Regions from separate parts of the Homo sapiens genome. Here region 1 is linked to region 2. The links come from fine-mapping of genetic effects on gene expression. A gene starts in region 2. The other region holds a variant in brackets. All regions are shown on one strand. Distances are from middle to middle. Region 1 has its middle 20 kb from the start of SLAMF1. Region 2 holds the start of FCER1G (Fc epsilon receptor Ig).

The links.
Region 1: its variant is fine-mapped to the expression of FCER1G in monocytes (Schmiedel 2018, PIP 0.95).

The regions. Positions count from the first base shown.
Region 1 is chr1:160,664,631-160,670,007 of GRCh38, forward strand. It overlaps the pseudogene SETP9. Among named protein-coding and RNA genes, the nearest start is that of SLAMF1, 20 kb to the left of the region's middle. RefSeq lists enhancers at 791-850, 864-1,425. The variant TC/T (reference allele first, on the strand shown) is at 2,510.
Region 2 is chr1:161,212,851-161,218,216 of GRCh38, forward strand. FCER1G (Fc epsilon receptor Ig) reads left to right here and starts at 2,445. Exons shown (of 5, transcript NM_004106.2): 1 at 2,445-2,520; 2 at 5,136-5,227. The coding sequence starts at 2,472. NDUFS2 (NADH:ubiquinone oxidoreductase core subunit S2) reads left to right here. Exons shown (of 14, transcript NM_001377299.1): 11 at 530-625; 12 at 799-882; 13 at 1,014-1,071; 14 at 1,306-1,545. The coding sequence ends at 1,343. RefSeq lists an enhancer at 4,366-5,352.

The DNA of each region.
Region 1 (5,377 bases), 550 kb before region 2:
TGGGTTTAGGTCAATCCACCCATATCCTGATTGAGTTTCATTATGCTCTATTTACCTTCATGGTTCCCCAATCTAACAATGCCTGGCATACAGCAAGTGCTAAAAATGTTTGTGGAATGAATATACTGATTGTGGCCTTTTTTGGTGGGGGTAGAACTGGCCCCACACCTTCACATCATCACTGGAATTATGCCTCAGAAGCATCTTGGAAGTCAGCAGACCTAGGGAAGTCCTACTTAGCCATGAAATTTGCATTTCCCCAGGTACCTCCCAACCCCTCTCCACTTCCTCTGAGAGCAAAACCTCCGTTGTTCATGTCACACCCATGGGCAGCCTTTGTGCTCAGTACACAGACCTGATTGAGAAGATTGATAAAAGCAAAATAGAAAGAAGCCGTGATCTGGGTCATATGAGTTATACAACCATTTCCCTCTTATTTTACACTTGGGGAAACTTAAGCTAAGAGATCTTGTCTTAATTCATTAAAATTAGAGTTGCCAGCCCAGAAGAGAGGAAGGAGAAGTTTGGGACAGAGGAAGGCAACTAATACTTATTGAGCACTTACTGTATGGCAGACTTTATGTGGAATGATTTATTGAGGTTATCTCATTTAATCCTGATTTTAAAAATCATCCACATACGGAAACCGAGGTTTAGAAAGTTTACTTTTCCTGAGGTTCAGAAGCTGGTAAATGACGGTTCTGGAACTCAAACTCAAGGCTGTCTGGCTCCAAAGGTCATGCTCCTTCCCCTATACCACACAACCTCCCAGAAGCTTGAAATGTGGTTCTGGGTACTAGGTATAAGCTTGAAGACCAACCAAACATGCTCATTCCAGTGCTCTCTCTAGGAGCCAACAAGCCCTCCAACATTGCCCCCCTAGAAGGTCCTGCAAAATTGAGTTGTCTAGGGTTTGACAGAGTCCAGAAGACATTTTCGAACATAAGAAGGGCAATGGGTCAAGCCCCAGGGAGTACCCAGTAGTATCAACAAAGAAAGGAGAATGTGTATTTGACTTCCAGCCTCAGCCCTGCTGGTAACTTGCCAGACGGCCTTGGCCTGGCCACTTCCTTCCTGTCCTCCACCAAGATTACAGAAAATTAGGAAATGCAAATTTTATGGGCTTCCCTGCTGACGATTTCTAAGTCTTCTTTGTAGTAATCATTCCTATCACAAAGAGGGTGGGAAACGGTGATTATGGACCAGGGAGAGAGTCCTATTCCTAAGAAGTGGTTCTTGGACTTTGGAGAGGCAACAATTGGTTTGAGTCTTAACAAATGAGTGGGAGTTTGTTAGGTCAACGAGGAGTGGGAGGGGATTCCAGGAAGTGTAAAAGCTTGAGCAAAGGCATTGAGTAAATTCGGGGAACTGCTAGCAGTTCAGGAAGGTTGCAGCATTCAGTGCAAAGGAGGGGCCAAACTAGAAATTGGACAGGAGAAAATCACAGAAACCAAGCCACATAAGGATCAGTAGAACCCTGTAGGCTCTCCAACGAGCCTATCCTTGAAGGATTTAAGCATGAAAATGTTGTCATTATTAAACCTAGGCTTTAAAGAGGTCCTTCTGCTCTGTGTTGCTGTCCTCTGCCAGAGATAGCAAGACTGACAGAGGCTGTGCTCCTGTAGCCTGGGAGCCAGAATGGAGAGACACATTGGGCAGAGCCCGGCAGAGTCACAGGAACTTGTAGTCCCCATCTGTTTATTATTCATGGAAGCTTTCTCCTTTTCTTGATTGGATCAACAGAAAAATAAACTGTCGTCTTTGGCAGATGATTCAATGGGAATTCAAGGGTTTCAATGGGAATTCAAGGTTGAAAATGATAATGTACTCTGAGAACTCACAGGTCTATAAAAGGAGAGGCCTATACAAGGAAAGAAGAGGATGTGGTAAATGCAGAACAGACCCTCAGCATCTTGAAGGACCATCAAGGGGAAATAAGTATTGCAGACCTTTCATTAATCTGTGTAGTTAACTTTTTATTTGAAAATAATGTCAAAAGAGCTGCAAGAAAAAATTATTATTAATAATAGTACAAAGAACACGCTTATAAATATCCTGCAGGGAGGGGTCTACAAGTTGGCTGTGACTGTGAATACCTCTCTGTAATGTTTTGCCCATTTTGCTTTAATATTAGCTAGTTCTCTCTCTCTCTCTCTTTCTGTCTCTATTTGAACTATTATAGGGTAGGTTGCATATGGCATGGCTCTTTATCTTAAATACATCAGTGTAAAGAATTAGGATAATTTCTGACACAACTACAATATAGTTATCACTTAAGTAAATTTTACATTGATAACAATATTCTTGTCTAACCTACTGTTTGCATTTCAATTTTGTCGGTTGACCCTTTGTAACCATAATTTTCCCTCCAGGTCAGGATCCAGTCCAGTATTAGGTATTGCATTTAGTTGTTGTATCTCTTTAGTACCCTTCAACTGTAACATTTCCACAGCTATATCTTCTCCTTTATGACATGGATATATTTGAAGAATGCAGTCTTCCCACCCTT[TC/T]CCTTTTTTTTTTTTTTTCTTGAGGTGGAGTCTTGCTCTGTCACCCAGGCTGGAGTGCAGTGGTACAATCTCGGCTCACTGCAATCTCCACCTCCCGGGTTCAAACGATTCTTCTGCCTCAGCCTCCTGAGTAGCTGGCATGCACCACCACACCCAGCTAATTTTTTTGTATTTGTATTTTTAGTAGAGATGGGGTTTCACCATGTTGGTCAGGCTGGTCTCAAACTCCTGACCTCATGATCCGCCTGCCTCAGCCTCCCAAAGTCCTGGGATTACAGCCTCTCTTTTTTAATAGCAAATTCCTCACTTGGGGTTTTTTGGTATTTCCTTATGATTAGATTCACATTATGCATTCCCAGACTAGGTACTACACAAGTGACATTGTACCCTCAAGGTATCACATCTAGAGACCCTTGATGTCTTCTCATCGATAATGTTAATTTTAATCACCTGGCCAATATATTGCCAACAGATTGCCAGATTTCTCTATTGTATAGTTATCTTTTTTGATTTTAACTAATAACTATGTGTTGGCATACAGTGGAAGGCCATGCAGACATCTTACTCCTCATCAAAATTTCCTCTGAGATTTAGCATCCATTGATAATTTTTGCCTGAGCCTGTCTTAATTGTGATAGTTACAAAATAATAACTTTCTTCACTTTAGCACCTCACTCCATATTTGGCATTCTATTGCAAGCAAGAACCCTCCCTTTATCTATCTGATCTATCGCATCTGTCTTCTCTAGTCAGTTTTGGTAGTCTGTGTGATTCTTGAAATTTTTCCATTTCGTCTAATTTATTTCCATACAATTGTTCATACTATCCCCCTTGTAATCATTTTTATTCCTTTAAAGTCAATAGTAATATCCCCTTTTAATTCTTGATTTTGGTCCTTTGAGTCTTCTCCGTTTTTCATTTTATCAGTCTACCTAAACATTTGTCAGTTTTGCTGATCTTTTCAAATAACCAAACTTTAAATTTGTTTTTCTCTTATTTTTGTATTCTCTCCTTCATTTCTTTCCATTTTTATCTTTATTATTTTCTCCCTCTTGCTTGCTTTGAGCTTAGTTTATTCTTCTTTTTATAGTTTCTTAATGAACTTAGTTCTTCTTTTTATAGTTTATTTTCTTTCTTTCTTTCTTTCTTTCTTTCAAGACAGGGTCTCACTGTGTCACTCAGGCTGGAGTACAGTGGCACAATCACAGCTCACTGCAGCCTTGATCTCCTAGGTTCAAGCAATCCTCCTACCTCAGCCACCAAAGTAGCTGGGACTACAGGCATGAGCCACCACACCTGGCTAATTTTTTAAATTTTTTGGTAGAAACAAGGTCTCACTACGTTGCTGGTCTTGAACTCTTGAGGTCAAGTGATCCTCCTGCCTCAGCTTCTCAAAGTGTTAGGGTTACAAGAATGACCCACTAATCCCAGCCTATAGTTTCTTAAGGTAGGAGGTTAGATTATTGATTTGAGATCTTTCTGTTTTAATTTAGGCATTTACAGCTATAAAAGTTTCTCTAAGCATTGATTTCCTGCATCTCATAAGTTTTTGATATGTAATATTTTTAGTTTTATTCATCTCAAAGTATTTTGTAATTTCCCCTATGATTTATTCTTTGACCCATTGTTTTAGAAGTATGTAGCTTGATTTAGAAGTATGTAGCTTGATGAATTTTCCAAATATCCTTCTGTGATTGATCTATAATTTCACTCCATTGTGGTTAAAAACATACTTTTGACATTTCTGTAATTTTAGTCATTTCATATTTGTTGAGACTTGTTTTATAGCCCAACATATAGTCTATCTTGGAGAATGTTCCATGTGCATTTGAGAACAACAAACACATATTCTGCTGTTGTTGGGTAAAGTGTCCTATAGACTTTGGTTAAGTTTAGTTGGTTTATAATGTTGTTTAAGTCTTCTATTTCCTTGTTGATTTTATGTATAGTTGTTCAATCCATTATTGAAAATGGGATATTGAATTCTCCAGTTATTATTGTTGAATTGTCTATTTATCCCTTCAATTCAGTAAGTTTTTGCTTCATGTATTTTGGGGCTCTGTGCATATATATTAATAATTGTTATATCTTCTTGATGCATTAACTCTTATTATTATAAAATGTCCTTCTTTGTCTTTACAACAATTTTTGTCTTAAATCATATTTTGACTGATCTCAGTTTCTAAACCCAGCTCTCTTTTGGTTATTGCTTCCATAACATAATATACCTTTTTCCACCTTTTACTTTCAACCTATAGGTGTATTTGAATCTAAACTGTGTCCTTTGTACACAACATATAGTGGACCCATTTTTTTTAGTCCACTCTAATAACCTCTGCCTTTTATTTGTAATGTTTAATCCATTTATATTTAATGTAATTTCTGATATGGTAGGATTTATGTTTGCCATTTTCCTATTAGTTTTCTATAGGTTTTTTGTGTGTGTGTGTTCTTCTCTTTCTTTATTAGTGCCCTCTTTTGTATTAAATATATTTTTTCTACTGTACACTTAAGTTCCCTTGTCATTTTTTTTTTTTTACTGTATTTATTTTCTTCATAGTTGGTTTGGAGGTTACAATGATCTTAATTGCAATAATATAATACTTTGTTCTCACACAGCTTTTTCTCCTGCCCACATTTTTTGCTGTTATTGTCATACAAATTACATCTTTATACATGTGTGTCATTAACACAGATTTATAATTATTGTTCTATAAAATTGTCTTTTAAATCAGATAAGAGAAAAAAATTACAAACAAAAACTACACTTATATTGTCTTTTATATACATTTTATGTATCATATGCCAGGGCAGCATGCGCGAGCAAGCGCTGGGAGAGCGAGCGAACGGGGAGCGGAGGCGGCCTG
Region 2 (5,366 bases):
CCCAGTTTTCTTTTAATAGAGAATTTACTGTGTAGTAAGAGATTCGGGTTTTTTTTATTTTTTTATTTTTTTTGAGACGGTGTCACGCTCTTTCACCAGGCTGGAGTACAGTGGCATGATCTTGGCTCTCTGCAACCACTGTCTCCTGGGTTCAAGCGATTCTCCTGCCTTAGTCTCCCGAGTAGCTGGGATTACAGGCACCCACCACCACGCCCAGCTAATTTTTGTATTTTTAGTAGAGACGGGGTTTCACTCTGTTGGCCAGGCTGGTCTTGAACACCTGACCTCTTGATCTGCCCACCTCAGCCTCCCAAAGTGCTGGAATTACAAGCGTGAGTCACCGCACCCGGCCATATAAGAGATTCTTAATCTCCCATAGCTCTCCTGTTTTATTCTGTATCCTCTCTGCTTACTGACTGACATGTGGCTTTAGTCTCCCTGAGGGTAGAGATTATTTTCTGTGCTGGGGGAGGCCTAGGAGACAGAGTTTGGATATGGTTTATTGATGCTCCCTGTTTCCTCTCTTCAGACTTCCATGGAGTCACTGATTCATCACTTTAAGTTGTATACTGAGGGCTACCAAGTTCCTCCAGGAGCCACATATACTGCCATTGAGGCTCCCAAGGTAAGGAGAGGAGGGGAAGGAAAAGACCATATGTAGAGTAGGTAGCTAAAGATAGATGTTTAACAAATAGCTCATTCATCAATGAGAGAGAAAACAGAATGAATAGAGGTTTTGTTGGCAGAGAAAAATACTCTTCATGTTAATACAGACACCCAACCTTCTTCCTTGAACAGGGAGAGTTTGGGGTGTACCTGGTGTCTGATGGCAGCAGCCGCCCTTATCGATGCAAGATCAAGGCTCCTGGTTTTGCCCATCTGGTAAGAATCAATCCCAGTAACTATAACTCCAATGAATTAAACCTGACCTTGGTTGAGGTTTTTATGAACTCTTCTTTCTCCTCCCACCTTGCAAGTCTTAACTAACATTGTTGCCATCTCAATCTCCCTAGGCTGGTTTGGACAAGATGTCTAAGGGACACATGTTGGCAGATGTCGTTGCCATCATAGGTACGAGGCCTATTGTGTAGTAGAGGTATCCTAGACAAAGGAGTTCGGGACGCCCACTGGGGACAGAAGGAGAACACTTCCTGTTCACCATAGGCCATGGCATGGACTCGGGTCCTCAATCTTTTGAGCACAGTAATGGGTTCTGGATCTTGGGTAACACCACTTTTTTTGTTTGTTTTGCCTCACAACAGGAAGATAAGTAACATCACTTTTTTCCTCCATCCTCTCACCTAGGTACCCAAGATATTGTATTTGGAGAAGTAGATCGGTGAGCAGGGGAGCAGCGTTTGATCCCCCCTGCCTATCAGCTTCTTCTGTGGAGCCTGTTCCTCACTGGAAATTGGCCTCTGTGTGTGTGTGTGTGTGTGTGTGTGTGTGTATGTTCATGTACACTTGGCTGTCAGGCTTTCTGTGCATGTACTAAAAAAGGAGAAATTATAATAAATTAGCCGTCTTGCGGCCCCTAGGCCTAAACTTCTGGTATCTTAGTGTCTCAGTATCTTAGTGTCCTTCACTCGGACTGTAAACCTAAGAATGTTCATTAACCCTCCATTCCTGTTAGATTCAGTCAGGTCTTAGCAATTTTTCCTGCTCGTCTCCACCCCCTTCTCTGACTCTTGTCCTTTCCACTTCTCTATTCCCCATTTCCTCTTTCGCCTCAGTTCCCTCCTTGCCCAAACCTTCTCAGTGCCCACATAACTTGGTAAACCACTCAAATCAAGACCTGGGGTAAAGTTGGGAGGGAAAGGGCTATAGTGGGGTCTGAGGGAATGTTGACGGGCAGTTTCACACAGATAAATCTCTGAACCAGCCGGGCGCAGTGCCTCACGCCTGTAATCCCAGCACTTTGGGAGGCCGAGGCGGATGGATCACCTGAGATCAGGAGTTCAAGACCAGCCTGATCAACATGGAGAAACCCCATCTCTACTAAAAATACAAAATTAGCCGGGCGTGGTGGTGCATGCCTGTAATGCCAGCTACTCGGGAGGCTGAGAGAATCGCTTGAACCTGGGAGGCGGAGGTTGCGGTGAGCCGAGATGGCGCCATTGCACTCCAGCCTGGGCAACAAAGCAAGAGTCCGTCTCAAAAAAAAAAAAAAAAAAAAAAATCTGAACCAGGTGGAGTGGAAAATGGCAGATGTAGACAGCCTTTCCTGAGCGTGAAAGTCTCCTCATTCTGTGGGTTAGGAGTTGGTCATTGAAGGGCTGACGCTTAAGAGCCCAGATCTCCCAACTCCCTTAGTTGGCCCTTCCGGGAGCCGCCCGGTCTCTTGTGCAGGAAGGGGAAGGGGCCAAAGCATGGGGGAAGGCGTGGCAGGAAGAGGGGGACTCTGTGGTCAGGGAACTGCTCGCTGAGCACAGCTGCACAGTGCTGTCAGAACGGCCGATCTCCAGCCCAAGATGATTCCAGCAGTGGTCTTGCTCTTACTCCTTTTGGTTGAACAAGCAGGTAAGAGGGTTTGGTGAGGGATAGCGTGAGCTGGCTCCAGGGTGGAAGTCCAGAGCTTGGGTCTGAGGGCCAAGTCAAACACAGGTGAAGGAAGGCTGACAGTGGGTAGGTGGGCATAGGGAGACCCTGAGGCTAGTCCTCTCCAGCCCCGACCCAGGGCACTAGACTCATAGTTCCCTCCTTTCTTGTTGCCTTCTTACTTCATTCCAGACTTTTCTCCGTATTATTATTATTATTTTGGAGATGGAGTCTTGCTCTGTCACCCAGGCTGGAGTGCAGTGGCGCAATCTCTACTCACTGCAACCTCTGCCTCCTGGGTTCAAGCGATTCTCCTGCCTCAGGCTCCCGAGTAGCTGGGACTACAGGTGCCCGCCACCACGCCCGGCTAAGTTAAGTATTTTTGGTAGAAACCGGGTTTCGTCATGTTGACCAGGGTAGTCTTGAACTCCTGACTCAAGTGATCCACCCACCTCGACCTCCCAAAGTGCTGGGATTACTGGTGTGAGCCACTGCACCCAGCTATTATTATTATTAAAAAAAGACAGGGTCTTACTATGTTGGCCACATCGGTCTTGAACTCCTGGCCTCAAGCAATTCTCCCACCTCGGCCTCCCAAAGTGCTACTGTGCCTGGCTGACTTTTCTCTTTTCAGGGTTGATAGAAAGTGGCAGGGGAAGGGTCTGGTTGTATGGCATGAAGAGCTGGTCTGGTGAAAAGCCTCATTTCTCATGATGAGCATTTCCCATGGGGTGCCTTTGGTCTTGTCTGCTGGGAGCTGATCTCTAGCTGGTTTAATATACAAAGCACCCTTGGTGCCTATAATTCCAGCTACTCAGAAGGCTGAGGCAGGAGAATCACTTGAACCCAGGAGGTGGAGGTTGCAGTGAGCCAAGATCGCACCACTGCACTCTAGCCTGGGGGACAGAGTGAGACTCCGTCTCAAAAAAAAAAAAAAGATTTTACATATATATCTCTATCTATCTATCTATATACACACACACACACATACACACACACACACACACACACACACACACACACATATATATATATATATAGAGAGAGAGAGAGAGAGAGAGATAACCCTTTAGGAAGGTAGGACTCTGTTCTTGTGCTTGGGAGTAAGGCAAGGATATAGCCAAGACAAACAGACGGGATTGCTGTTTCTATGGGTCATTGTTAATGCTCCATTCTGTCAGCAGTTGATAATGAGGGTGGGCAGCATGAGATCCCCAGTTCCAGAGACCTGAGCGTCAGCTGAGAAATAGAGGCAGAAATGGGAAGGTCTCTGAAGCTCTACAGCTCCAGCCACTATCTAAGAATTCTCACTCCTCGTTCACTCTGTGTTGTCTGTGCTGGATTGGTGTGTGTGTGTTGGTGGCAGCTGGGTGTTGGGGAGGAGGAGGTCAGTAAACTTCAGGGAAACTGTGGAAATTGAAAGAGAATGACTGGGGAGGAATTCCAGCAGCCTAGCTGAGAAGGTGGGAGCAAGTATTAAGTTAGCCACTGGTCTGCTGCCGTGGGATGAGGAGGGAGGAGGCCCGCTGAGGCACAAAGGAAAGCATGGGCTTTAGAGGCAGAAAACCTGCATTTGAGTTCCAGCTCTGTCACTTAACTCTGTGGCTCTGAGTGAGTTACTTAGCTTTTCCGAGCCTTGGTTTCGTCACCCATAAAATGGCGATGATGATGTTTCCCTCACAGGGTAGTTTTAAGATTTGTGCAATATCGTGTGTGTGAAAGAGTGTTGCAGAATAAAAAGTACTTGACCGATGTCAGCAATTGACTGACGTTAGTCACATGTTCCCTACTGGTCCTCTGATACGGGGTGAGAGCAGTCTCTGGAGCCCAGACTTGATTTGATTTTTTAAATTGCACAAAACTTCCCCTCTCAGAGACCCAGAGAGTGAGTAATAGGGCAGAGTAACAGGAGCTGGAATCCATATAGCTGTGGTCATTCCCCCAGCCTTGTGTTCAGGGCCAAAGGTATCTGTAAGGTCTGGGAAAAACAGACACACTTTTTTTTTTTTTTTTTTTTTTTACATATTTAAGTGTCTTGTGGTGGGACAGAAAGCAACAAGGCTGAGGCTAGGAGATGACCAATGATAGAGTAATTGCCTTCTCTCCCTTCCCCAGCTCACATCCTTCCTGTCCAGCCCTCAGCCACAGGTCACAGGACTTAGTAGAGACACTTCTGTGGTTTCTTCACTGAAATTTGCCACTACCTCTCCCTCCCACTACCCATCTTGGCTGAGGTTTTGGTTTCAGTCCAGTGGACTCAGATGGGTCCCTTGAGGTGGATAAAGTGCTCAATGGTGCCTGAAGAACCCACAGTGCTAAAAAGAAAAGGTTGGGGGCTGAGGGGGAAGGCCTCAATTATTAGTCCGTGTGAGTCCCATTTCAATAGAACCCTCAAGCTTCCTATCCTAGCCTGACCCTATGGTGTGGGAGGAGGGAAAGGTAAGGGCAGTGGAAGGCCAGAGAGAAACAGAATTTCTTCCCTTAGACGGCTCCCCTCCAGGCCCTGTCCTACCTCCCAGAGCCCCTTCCCTTCTCTCCTCTGAGTACCAGATCCTCCCTGATACCCCCGACCCCATGGGCATCCTCTATCCCCTCAGCGGCCCTGGGAGAGCCTCAGCTCTGCTATATCCTGGATGCCATCCTGTTTCTGTATGGAATTGTCCTCACCCTCCTCTACTGTCGACTGAAGGTAGCGCTGGGCAGGGTGGGGTAAGGGCTGGAAGGGGAAGTGGGAGGAGGGCAGCAGCAAGGATTCGAAGAGAAGGAATAAAAGGGGATCCTCCACAAAGTTTGGAGGGAAGGGGGATGGGCCATTAACTTACCCTTTA